2 separate regions of the Homo sapiens genome follow, and region 2 is linked to region 1. Evidence: fine-mapped expression QTL. A gene starts in region 1. The other region holds a variant in brackets. All regions are shown on one strand. Distances are from middle to middle.

Region 1 (2,807 bases):
TGGAAATTTACGTATGTGATAAAAATATTGCAAATCGCTGGTCAGGGAGGTGCTTTATAAATTAAATGTTATGACAGCTAAAAAGTCATTTGAAAATAGATAAAATTGGATACATCACCTAGGTAGAATTCCTGCATATATGTTTGTGTGTACATATCTATTACTCGTGAATCTTATAATGAGGAACCAATCTGACATCTCCAAATTGAAGGATATTCTGGAAGACCACCGGGCTAGACTTTTCAAAAATGTCAATACCAGGAGAAACAAACAAAAAAGGCTAGGGAACTGCTCTATATTGAAGGAAGCGAAAGAGACTTGACAACTGCAATATGTGGTTCTTATTGATGCACTATGTGATTCTTGTTAAATCTCGGATTTACATTTTACAAACTACAGGGTAAAGAAGGACATTTTGGGACAATTGAGGAAATTCAAATATGAAATATAGATTATTGTAATATAACAATGTTACATTTCCTAAGTATGATGATGTGCATTGTGATCCTGTGGTCCTCAATTGAGGCAACTTTGTACCTCTCCTTTTTCCCCCAACCCTCACCACTACCCCTCCCCCCCTCAACCCCCCCAACCACACCGTTTGGGTTTGGCAGTGTCTGGAGGCATCGTTGGCTGTCACAACTGGGGGAGGGGGTTGCTACTGGCATCTAATGGGTAGAGGCCAAGGATGCTGCTAAATAGTGATTGTTTAGCACAGGACACCCCCACCCCACCCCGTCACCCCACCTTACGGGTACAGACAGCAAAAACTCATCCTGCCCAAAATGTCCATAGCGCGGGGTTGAGAAACCCTGATGTAGAAAAATCCCTTATTCTTAGGGGATACATACTGAGATATTAGGCTGAATCACATGACATTGTCTCTTGCGTAGGTCAAGTATCGGCAATATTTAAGGACGAAAGGTTATGACGTTCACAACAAACTCTCAAAATAATGAACAAGCCCCTTCCGCCCCGGCTGCCCCGCGACCTAGGGGACCCGAGAAGGGCGCACTCGCACGGGCCGCGGAGGCCAACGCCGAGCCTGCGCGGCGGGAGGCGCTGAGAACTCACTGCGCACGCGCCGGTCGGCTGGCCGCACCCACGCGGCGCAGCTCCCAAAGTTGCAGACAGCCCGGCGAACCGCGCAATGCGCTTCTTCTGCCTGCAGCAGAGAAAAGGAAAGAAAACTCCGCAGGGGCTCCGTTGGCTTCTCCACGAGTGACAACCATGTTTTCCCAGATAGAAGACCGGAGCCCTGCTCCTTTGCGATCCGCCGAGGGCTGCAGAGAGCATCCTCATCCATTTGGGCACCCCTGCCCAGGAAGAGCCCGGCCATCCCTTTCCGGACTGGATCCTTAAGAGGTGAATTTTCTTCCGTGGATTCCGATTTGCTCCGTCTGACCAGCCTAGGCAATCCAGCATCGCGTGGTACCAGTGCCGCTGGGCACACTGGCTTCACGCCGGCTCCGCCTCACCAGCAAGCGCATTCCCAGGTAAAAATTTTAAATACCTTAGAATTCTTCTGCCTAGACCCTCTAATCAAGAAGTTTACCCACTTTTTCTGTAAGGAGCCAGAAAGCAAATACTCTAGAATTTGGGCCTGGAACTGTCTCTGTAGCGTATTCGTCTTTGTTTTGAAAATGTAAAAACCACTCTTAGCTGCTGGCCTTACAAAAATAGAATCATGAGGACTGTGAAGATTAGAGCCTAATCACTAATTCACCCAGCACAGAGGCTAGAGCGCCAGTGAGTCCTCCGCCCCTTCCCAGGCCCGACCATAGTTTTGCAGTTAGGACCCAGGTTTTGTGAGGACTGGGACCCACCCAGGTTTAGTTCACAGTCTCTTGAATCCCTCCCTGCACCTGCACCTCTGCTCCTCCCCCTAGGCCGGTGGCCCTTGGTGAGTTTCTGGCAGTCTCCTAGGCCACCAGGAAACACTCCGACCAACTGCCACGCCCTCCTTTGCTCCAAAATGACAAGCTCTTTTCATCTGGGAGCAAAAGCTGAAGTCCCCACATTTGAACTAAATTAGTTTAGTGTAAAAGTAGTACAAGATTATCTCAGACAATTGTATTTTAATAGTATTTTTTTCTAGTGATAAATGTAATATATGTCTACTATGGTCATTTGGAAAATTCTGAGACGTATAGAGCAGAAAAGAAATTCTCCATAACCCTAACCCACAAAAAATAACTTTTGAAATGCTTGTGTATTTTTTAATTCTTTTTTAATGCATATTATAGGACAACTTACTGAACATTTGGATTTTTAGAAATATTTTTAATAAAACGTGTTGAAGTACAGCATACAAAAAAGTGTACAAATTACAAATACAGTTCAGTAAACTTTCAAAGATTAACACAAACATGTCCGGGCAACCACAACTCAGCTCAAGAAATTAACTAATAGTAGCATTCTTCATCCCCCTGTTAGTTTTGTCTATTCTGACATTTCACATGAAATGAATTACTTGGTAAATATTTTATAGTATTTGGTTTATTTCCCTTTATATTATATTTGAATTCATCCGTGTCGTTGCATGTAACAAGTCTTTTTTACAATTTTATTCTATGCTGTATGAAATTCAGTTATATGAGTATACACAATTTATTCTTTCTACTGTTATTTTTTCTTAATTACAGATTTATTGAGATATAATTCACACACCATACAGTTCATCTACTTAAAGTGTGCAATTCAATGTGTACAATTCATTGCTTTCAGCATATTCGCAGATATGTGCAACCATCACCACAGTCAATTTTAGAAAATTTTCATCACCTGGAAACTTCATACCCTTTAAC
Region 2 (2,807 bases), 96 kb after region 1:
TGCTGTATTCAGGAAACCCATCTCACGTGCAGAGACACACATAGGCTCAAAATAAAAGGATGGAGGAAGATCTACCAAGCAAGTGGAAAACAAAAAAAGGCAGGGGTTGCAATCCTAGTCTCTGATAAAACAGACTTTAAACCAGCAAAGATCAAAAGAGACAAAGAAGGCCATTACATAATGGTAAAGGGATCAATTCAACAAGAAGAGCTAACTATCCTAAATATATATGCACCAAATACAGGAGCACCTAGCTTCATAAAGCAAGTCCCGAGTGACCTACAAAGAGACTTAGACTCCCACACAATAATAATGGGAGACTTTAACACCCCACTGTCAACATTAGACAGATCAACAGGACAGAAAGTTAACAAGAATACCCAGGAATTGAACTCAGCTCTGCACCACGCAGACCTAATACACATCTACAGAACTCTCCACCCCAAATCAACAGAATACACATTTTTTTCAGCACCGCACCACACCTATTCCAAAATTGACCACATAGTTGGAAGTAAAGCTCTCCTCAGCAAATGTAAAAGAACAGAAAGTATAACAAACTGTCTCTCAGACCACAGTGCAATCAAAGTAGAACTCAGGATTAAGAAACTCACTCAAAACCGCTCAACTACATGGAAACTGAACAACCTGCTCCTGAATGACTACTGGGTACATAACGAAATGAAGGCAGAAATAAACATGTTCTTTGAAACCAACGAGAACAAAGACACAACATACCAGAATCTCTGGGACACATTCAAAGCAGTGTGTAGAGGGAAATTTATAGTACTAAATGCCTACAAGAGAAAGCAGGAAAGATCCAAAATTGACACCCTAACATCACAATTAAAAGAACTAGAAAAGCAAGAGCAAACACATTCAAAAGCTAGCAGAAGGCAAGAAATAACTAAAATCAGAGCAGAACTGAAGGAAATAGAGACACAAAAAACCCTTCAAAAAATTAATGAATCCAGGAGCTGGTTTTCTGAAAGGATCAACAAAATTGATAGACTGCTAGCAAGACTAATAAAGAAGAAAAGAGAGAAGAAACAAATAGACACAATAAAAAATGATAAAGGGGATATCACCACCGATCCCACAGAAATACAAACTACCATCAGAGAATACTACAAACACCTCTACACAAATAAACTAGAAAATCTAGAAGAAATGGATAAATTCCT[C/T]GACACATACACCCTCCCAAGACTAAACCAGGAAGAAGTTGAATCTCTGAATACACCAATAACAGGCTCTGAAATTGTGGCAATAATCAATAGCTTACCAACCAAAAAAAGTCCAGGACCAGATGGATTCACAGCCGAATTCTACCAGAGGTACAAGGAGGAATTGGTACCATTCCTTCTGAAACTATTCCCATCAATAGAAAAAGACGGAATCCTCCCTAACTCATTTTATGAAGCCAGCATCATCCTGATACCAAAGCTGGGCAGAGACACAACCAAAAAAGAGAATTTTAGACCAATATCCTTGATGAACATTGATGCAAAAATCCTCAATAAAATACTGGCAAACCGAATCCAGCAGCACATCAAAAAGTTTATCCACCATGATCAAGTGGGCTTCATCCCTGGGATGCAAGGCTGGTTCAATATACGCAAATCAATAAATGTAATCCAGCATATAAACAGAACCAAAGACAAAAACCACATGATTATCTCAATAGATGCAGAAAAGGCCTTTGACAAAATTCAACAACCCTTCATGCTAAAAACTGTCAATAAATTAGGTATTGATGGGACGTATCTCAAAATAATAAGAGCTATTTATGACAAACCCCCAGCCAATATCATACTGAATGGGCAAAAACTGGAAGCATTCCCTTTGAAAACTGGCACAAGACAGGGATGCCCTCTCTCACCATTCCTATTCAACATAGTGTTGGAAATTCTGGCCAGGGCAATTAGGCAGGAGAAGGAAATAAAGGGTATTCAATTAGGAAAAGAGGAAGTCAAATTGTCCCTGTTTGCAGATGACATGATTGTATATCTAGAAAACCCCATTGTCTCAGCCCAAAATCTCCTTAAGCTGATAAGCAACTTCAGCAAAGTCTCAGGATACAAAATCAACGTACAAAAATCACAAGCATTCTTATACACCAATAACAGACAAACAGAGAGCCAAATCATGAGTGAACTCCCATTCACAATTGCTTCAAAGAGAATAAAATACCTAGGAATCCAACTTACAAGGGACATGAAGGACCTCTTCAGGGAGAACTACAAACCACTGCTTAATGAAATAAAAGAGGATACAAACAAATGGAAGAACATTCCATGCTCATGGGTACGAAGAATCAATATCGTGGAAATGGCCATACTGCCCAAGGTAGTTTATAGATTCAATGCCATCCCCATCAAGCTACAAAAGACTTTCTTCACAGAATTGGAAAAAACTACTTTAAAGTTCATATGCAACCAAAAAAGAGCCCGCATCGCCAAGTCAATCCTAAGCCAAAAGAACAAAGCTGGAGGCATCATGCTACCTGACTTCAAAGTATACTACAAGGCTACAGTAACCAAAACAGCATGGTACTGGTACCAAAACAGAGATATAGATCAATGGAACAGAACAGAGCCCTCAGAAATAACGCCACATATCTACAACTATCTGATCTTTGACAAACCTGAGAAAAATAAGCAATGAGGAAAGGACTCCCTATTTAATAAATGGTGCTGGGAAAACTGGCTAGACATATGTAGAAAGCTAAAACTGGATCCCTTCCTTATACCTTATACAAAAATTAATTCAAGATGGATTAAAGACTTAAACGTTAGACCTAAAACCAT

The links. PIP is the estimated chance that this variant, and not a neighbour inherited with it, causes the effect.
Region 2: its variant is fine-mapped to the expression of DUBR in caudate (GTEx, PIP above 0.99).

The regions. Positions count from the first base shown.
Region 1 is chr3:107,239,592-107,242,398 of GRCh38, forward strand. DUBR (DPPA2 upstream binding RNA) reads left to right here and starts at 1,101. Exons shown (of 4, transcript NR_028302.1): 1 at 1,101-1,496. It overlaps LINC00882 (long intergenic non-protein coding RNA 882), which reads right to left and starts at 1,047. Exons shown (of 4, transcript NR_028303.1): 1 at 852-1,047.
Region 2 is chr3:107,335,938-107,338,744 of GRCh38, forward strand. No RefSeq gene overlaps it. Among named protein-coding and RNA genes, the nearest start is that of CCDC54, 40 kb to the right of the region's middle. The variant C/T (reference allele first, on the strand shown) is at 1,185.